2 linked regions of the Homo sapiens genome follow. The protein of the gene in region 2 purifies or fractionates together with the protein of the main gene of each other region. This does not show direct contact. Each region holds a gene or a part of one and is shown on either strand. Other genes may lie near its edges. The genes, in order: DDX46 and ATP8A2.

Region 1 (3,822 bases), on a different chromosome or scaffold from region 2:
GGCCACCATCACTTTTTAAAGATGTCAGCATAGATTAGAGAAACAAATGCTCAGAGATCAGAGACCTAGGTTCCAGGACAAACTCTAGAACGTATTAACCTAATTGGTCAACTTAATAAATCTTTCTGAATATTTCCTCATATGTAAAATGAAAAAAAAAATCTGCTTTCTCAGGCAGGGGAAGAGGGAGGAGGGATAATCTATGTAAAAAGATTCAAAAATTCTAATCTAGCATTAACATAGTATGTTCTTTTTTGCCACAACTATATTGGGTCATAATTAACAAAAATTATATATATTTAAGGTGTACAACATGTTTGATATACATATACACTCTGAAATGATGAACACAATCAAGCTAACATATCACCTCATATAGTTACCAATATTTTCTTTTGTGGTAAGAACATGTAAGATTGGTCAGGCACGGTGGCTCACACCTGTAATCCCAACACTTTGGGAGGCCGAGGCAGGAGGATCACCTGAGGTCAGGTGTTCAAGACCAATCTGGCCAATATGGTGAAACCCCGTCTCTACTAAAAATACAAAAATTAGCCAGGCGTGGTGGCAGGCACCTGTAGTCCCAGCAACTTGGGAGGCTGAGGTAGGAGAATCGCTTGAACCAGGGAGGCAGAGGTTGCAGTGAGCCGAGATCGCGCCACTGTACTCCAGCCTGTGTGACAGAGCGAGACTCCATCTCAAAAAAGAAAAAAAAAAAACATGATGTGAGATCTACTGGCTTAGCGAATTTTCAGCACACAATATAACATTAACTAGTCACCATGCTGTACATTACATCTCCAAAGGTATTCATCCTACATAAAATAACTAATTCTTACTATTATTTTTATACTTCATTTTTTAAATGATTTTAGAAGCAATCACTATTCAAAAAACTAAAAGTAAAAGTCACTTTTACTTTATTGAATCATCCAACTTGAGAAAAGAATGGAAAACATGAATGTTTCTTATATAACTACCTGCTCACTGATTCCTGTTCCTCCGTAAACACAGACCACTCTAAGTCCCAAAGTCTTGGAAAACTTCTTACACTCTTTAGTAATCTGTAAAGCCAGTTCTCGAGTTGGAGTCATGATGACAGCTGGAAAGATAAATACATCAGTAGCCTAACCACCAAAATTCTTAAGGCTGTGCTTTATAGTGTTCAATTTAACCTTTACAATAAAGTTCAGATTGTTTCACCTAATTTTTGTTTTGTTATGCATCCCTGAAAACTATTTCAAAAGTTGTATAACAGCAGAGGTTGTGGGGAAGGATAAATATAAGCAGATTTTTAAAAACATGCTAAAAGAAGATAAATGACAGTTAAATGCCTCATCCAACCCTCAGGAAAATACTTGGTTCAAAAGAATGCAAACAGTTTTCTAATGCAAATCACAGAACAAAGAAAATCAAGTGACTCACTGTGCCACAGAAGCCATACTGCTGCTTCCAGAAACAACCTTGGTCTGAGGGGCACAGACAGAGGAGAGATATACTATGCCCCGTGTTCCTAAGAGAGAAGCTGAACAACTTTCCAAAACCCTACTCAACTTTCCAAGAGTTATCTCTGCCAAGATGAATCAAGAAACCAGAATCTAAACAAGTAATCTTGAATGAAATGCTGGCATTATAGCCTGTTAAGGCCAAAAACTACCTAGGAAAATATGTTTCCCTAGGATATCTTCCATGTCGCTTTTATATATCCACTGATACTGGGCTAACAAACCTCAATATAAATAAACAGATAGATGCACGAGGAGTCTACCTGCCAAGTCAGAGTTTAAAAACTGAGCTGTGCCAGGAGAGGCTGTTTTTGTACTTCTGAGATGTCACTCCAGAGCTCTGAAGATTCTCACTCCACCTGCTGGTAAGGGGAAATCAGCCCCAAAGTGCCAAATTGATAAAGAAAATGTACATAAAGACAACTTCATTGTCATAATTAAGAACATTATAAACTATAAGGTCTTTCTGTTTGACAACAAAGCTGTTATTTGAAAAATAGTTTAATGAAAAGAATTGTACCTATTGGCCCCTCTCCTTCCTCTAATGACCTCTGATCCATGATGTGTCTAAACATGGGCAACAGAAAAGCAATGGTCTTTCCACTTCCTGTTTTGGCAATGCCAATCAAATCTCGTCCAGACATTATAGCAGGAATAGCTTGGGTTTGGATGGGCGTGGGCTTTTCATAGCCATGCCTTAAAAAGAAAACCAAAGGAAGAAAAGGTAAGAATTGAGATTGCTGGGCCCCAGACAGGTCCTATGTGTTCCCATAAAAATGAACTTCCAAAAGGTGGTATATATCATACAATAAAATACTATTTGGCAATAAAAAGGAATGAAGTACTAACACATTCTACAATATGGACTAATCTTTACAACATTATGTAAAGTGAAAAAGATCAGGCAGTAAAGACTATATATTGTTTGATCCCATTTACATGAAATGTTAGGAATAGCCAAATCTATTCTAGAGACAAAAAATAGATTAATGGTTGCCCAGGGGTGGGGAGAGGGGAGAAGACTGACTACTAATGGACAAAAGTTTCTTTTTGGGATAATGAAAAATTTAAAAATTAGGCAGGGCGCAGTGGTTCATGACTGAAATCCCAGCATTCTGGGAGGCTGAGATGGGAGAATCATTTGGGGCCAGGAGTTGGAGACCAGCCTGGTCAACATAGCGACACCCCATCTCTTAAAAAAAAAAAAAAAAAAGGCCGGCCTTGGTGGCTCACGCCTGTAATCCCAGTACTTTCAGAGGCCGCAGCGGGTGGATCATCTGAGGTAGAGAGTTCGAGACCACCCTCACCAACATGGAGAAACCCTGTCTCTACTAAAAATACAAAATTAGCCAGGCATGGTGGCACATGCCTGTAATCCCACCTACTTGGGAGGCTGAGGCAAAAGTATCACTTGAACCCAAGAGGCGGAGGTTGCAGTGAGCCAAGATCGAGCCACAGCACTCCAGCCTGGGCAACGAGAGTGAAACTCCGTCTCAAAAAAAAAAAAAAAAGGCCGGGCATGGAGGCTCACGCCTGTCATCCCAGCACTTTGGGAGGCTGAGGCGGGCGGATCACCTGAGGTCAGGAGTTCAACGCCAGCCTGACCAACATGGTGAAACCCTGTCTCTACTAAAAATAAAAATAACCAGCTATGGTGGCACACACCTATAGTTTCAGCTACTCGGAAGGCTGAGGCAGGAGAACTGCTTGAGCCCGGGAGGCCGAGGTCACAGTGAGCGCAGTGAGATTGCACCACTGCACTCCACCCTGGGCAACAGAGCAAGACTCTGTCTCAAAAAACAAAACAAAACAAAACAAAAAAAAACCAGTTGTATAATTTAAAGGGTAAATTTTGATATATAAATTATCTCAATGAAAGTTTTTTAAAACGTAAGGGTTTTTTTAGAGTAAAAATGTAACTCAGGGAGACACTGGTGTGGAAGGACTATTTTGAGCAGCAAGACACGGAAAACATAAACAACCACCAACCACTTACTTCTTGAGGGAATTTAAGATCTTCATGGAAATTCCACACTGGACCCAGGATTTAATTGGTTTGGGGCAACCTTTTCCTTTAACTGTAATGCCCTCCATTTCCAATCGAAACACATTTACCTCTACAAAACAAAACCCAGATTAAAAGTTCTTAAATATTGTTCTATTGGTGTCTTCTACTTTTCAATTAGGCATAAGATTAACAAACTTTAACTCTTATGCCAGACCCAGCGGCTCACACCTGTAATCCTAGCAACTAGCACTTTGGGAGACAGACGCAGGCAGATCACTTGAACCCAGGAGTTGAAGACCAACCTGGGCA
Region 2 (3,822 bases):
CCTTAGCACCACAGGTCTCTTACTCCTATTTTGCCAGGTAAGTGTATTATCTAGAATTAGTTCTCCTCCTTTGTTAAATGTGACATAATATGCTACTCATTAGTGGACTGAGAGGAAGGGCTCAGGTACTGTCAGTGTCCTCGGGATAACCTGCCCATCTGCTCTGCTGCCAGATGGCTTCTATTCTAACAAGCCCCTGTATCAAGAAATCAGTGATGAGTACTGGGCTGCCTGTGTGTGTAGAGTGAGTCCACCATTGCAAGGCATTTGGAAATGCCATCCATCCAGATGCCATCTGTAGACACAAGTATAAAATAGAGGAAATAGAACAACTGTCTCAGAACCGTTTGATTGCCTTTCTTTGTCAGAATTTGTTAGTGCTGTTCTTAAGTATGTGCCAATCTTTAACTGAGGATATTTTTTCAATGTAGAATTTGCTGCTACTTGGAGCCACAGCCATAGAAGATCGCCTTCAAGCAGGAGTTCCAGAAACCATCGCAACACTGTTGAAGGCAGAAATTAAAATATGGGTGTTGACAGGAGACAAACAAGAAACTGCGATTAATATAGGTAATTATTTTTACAAATAATTTCCTGATGCTGGGTTTTGTATTTGTTTTTCAAGTATCTTTTAAATGTGTCTAAATGTTTCTCAAATTCATTGACAGATGATGTTTTATAGGAATCTTCATTCACAAGGCTAAGGAAAATTGACCTAAATCAAATGAAGATGCCTCCATGCCTGTTACAAACATTAAAACTATCATAGTTCCTGGAAAAGAATTAGACACACTTACATAGGGCATAGAATTCAAGATTTGACAGCTTTGATTTTCTTATTGCTTTCTTCACAAAATTTTAGTCTGAGACTAAGAGAGCATGTTTTTACTAGGTTTAAATATGCGTTATTATTTTATGTAATTATAACCATTTTAATGGTTTTGCCCATTAATGGGCTTTTCTAAGAGCCTTGCATCTTTCCCTTCCCAGCTTGTTGACAACTTCCTTGACTGCAGAGCATCACAGAGATGAAAATTGAAGAAAAGGAATTTAAGTCAGGATAACTCTGCCGTTGTTAAAGGAGCACGTTTTAAGTTTGAAAAGGAGTTGAAGCTACTCATTTTTTAAAAATCTAATCTTGATTATTTGAAACATTTAAACACTATCTGGTACTTTGATCAGCATTATGGTGTAACAAGACCTGGTGCATATGTGGTAAAATGAACACTGCATAACTTAGAATAGCTTGCTAGAAGTAGACTCTATTTCTATATCTGTTTCTATGTCAGTGCTCTGTGTTTTAGGAAGAAACCTGCTAGAGCCTTTGTATTTAAGTGACTATAGTCCTCTTCAGAGTAGTCTTCTTGGAATATTCTCAACATAATCCAATGGTGTCCCTTTCCTGAAAACCTTATCTTTGAATCAGCTTTGTCTCTCATGTAACCTCAGTTGTAAATAATACCTGCCTTCTTGGATAAATTTGATTTAAAAAAATAGACAAAAGCCATGTAATCATTTCTTGTCAGGGATATAGCTAATTAAATGGAAGTTGGGCTCCCAAACAACGGAAGTTAAGCTCACAAGAGAGTAACATAGGATTCATAAACAGTCCCTGAAGAATCAGCCATAGACTTTGTCCCTGGATTTGTGCTGGTTGTCATTCAGATGCATGGTTTTGGAGAACAGTATGATGGTATTTTAGTGCAGAATCATCACTGCTACTAGAAAATACAAACCCAAGCTTACAGCCCTTTGATGATGTGTCAGTAGCATTTTTACAAATGAAGAATAACACATTTGCTTTTTGTATGCTATATTTCTGTATAAGTATATACATTGACCCTTTATGTGTTATTTTTCATATAAGTTTGGCCTAAAACACCTGCTATGGATCTGTGGCCCCTGTTGTTTGCATGCTAAGTTGACTGTTACCCTGAAATACTTACCTAAAATTTAGGTGATATGCTTTCCACCCTATTAGAGCAATGTGAAAAAAGTGGATAACCCCTCAAGTTAAAATTGAGCTGTAAAGTGGTAACCTTTCTTAGTTTTCCAGATCTTGAGCGTTCCCGCTGGCCTAATAACCTATGCGTGTCACTGGCCCTAGACTGAACTACCTTCAGTGTGTTCTTGGATGTGCCCTGGCTGGAAAAGCACCACAGCTCCCTCTCACTGCCTCTCATCCACACCGCCCGGCCCCTGGGAGCACACGCAGCCCTTTTTCGTGTGTGTTCATTTTATTATACCTGAGCCTATCTAGCTAAGTTTGGGATAAACACAAGAGAAAGCAAAGTGCTGAAAATCAACCCAGAAAACACAAATGGATTATTACTCAAAAACGAAAGTTTTACTTGTATGTGATGAGGCTGCTCTGAGCCTTATGAGATAATTGATACCTGTCCAAACAATTTTTTAAAAATAACGATTGTATTATTTTGTACTTTTTTTCTAAGTGGGTGTAGTAACGTGTAGTGCTCATGCCAGAACCGCTCACATCATTTGCTATCTCTTAATTGATCTTTCTTAGCAAGTACTCTCCAAGACCGCTAGAAGATGATGCTTTATAAGCTGAGGACTTTTTGTCAAAGTCTTATGTTTATCCTGGAGGCTTTCTCTATTCACATTTTATCTAGTGTATCAGTCAGATTCAAACACATCTTGGGTGTTACTAAGTAAGCTTCTAACAGCTAGACAATTGATTTCTTTGAGAGAGCTATGTCTGAATTGTTTCTTCACTTCACCTTTGGAACTGAAGCTTGTAGCCTTGGGTGACGCCGAGAATTTAAATGTCGTCTTGTGATTTAAAGTATCTGTCAAGCCTACAAATGATGCAGAAGGCTCAGGAAAGCATATACGTCCGGACATTTTATTAGACTTTTCAGTGTGGGACCACAGGCGGCAGCTGTCAGCAGCATGAGGTCATGCTCTAGATACAGAGTGGGTTTCTAAGCCTGTTTTCTAGTCATATAGCCCTCATACCCCTGGTAGTATGAACCATTATGGACCTGTCTCCCATAATACTTTACATTTTCATGCATCCTGTGTGGATTTTAAGGTATCCAGAAGATATTTGGGAAGATCAAGTATCTAGCAGTTCTCCTTCTAGATGAAAAAAGGGAAGCAGAGCAAGTAAATGGAGTGTCTGGCAAGTGCCAGGCACTATACTAGGAGTGTTTTCTGAAAACTCTTTTTTTAATATTTACATATGAACATTCTTATAGCTCGAGGAGGAAATTCTACATTTCCCAGGGCTATACCCTACTTAATGACCAAACTGGTACTAGGTCTCAGGGCTCTTGACTTCTGGTGTGGGGCTTATTTAGAGGGATTCACATAGCTTTTGCAAAAAATGCTTTCTGAAATTTGATTTAGAAGACCACGGAGAATGGTACTACATTTCATCCATTCCAAGGTGCACATTGTTTTTACATTTTAATGTCTCTGAAATGGGGATGTCGTATAGTTGTTGACTCTTAGCTTTTAATTGTCAGCATTATCTTAGTGGTATGTACCATAAGAGTTCATCTTTAGATTTGGTGACATTAATTATCTTTGGTGTTTGGAGGTGTTGGCTCTTTTTAGAGTTTGGTTTTTTAAAATATATATATCTATCTCGTAGTTTGAGAATTTATTTTTAAAGTTTAACTTTTTATTCATACCTTAGAAAAAAAACACACAGTCAAATCAAGTTCCAAGACATGTGTGTCTCCTGTGAGCCAGTGAATTGTATGTAGATAGACAATCATCTTGTGTATAGGTTTTAGTAGTTTGAAATTGGCATGTTGCCAGAATCCTGCAACACTGTGCTTGAATTTATGCTAA

Evidence for each region.
Region 1: the proteins of ATP8A2 (region 2) and DDX46 fractionate together in Homo sapiens (co-fractionation; one large-scale study listed by BioGRID). This does not show direct contact.

What each region holds. Positions count from the first base shown.
Region 1 is NC_000005.10:134,782,745-134,786,566, reverse strand, and holds part of DDX46 (probable ATP-dependent RNA helicase DDX46), read right to left. Parts: intron 3,623-3,822; coding exon 3,502-3,622; intron 2,202-3,501; coding exon 2,026-2,201; intron 1,103-2,025; coding exon 981-1,102; intron 1-980. UniProt on the Homo sapiens protein: Component of the 17S U2 SnRNP complex of the spliceosome, a large ribonucleoprotein complex that removes introns from transcribed pre-mRNAs.
Region 2 is NC_000013.11:25,581,388-25,585,209, forward strand, and holds part of ATP8A2 (phospholipid-transporting ATPase IB), read left to right. Parts: intron 1-431; coding exon 432-570; intron 571-3,822. UniProt on the Homo sapiens protein: Catalytic component of a P4-ATPase flippase complex which catalyzes the hydrolysis of ATP coupled to the transport of aminophospholipids from the outer to the inner leaflet of various membranes and ensures the maintenance of asymmetric distribution of phospholipids.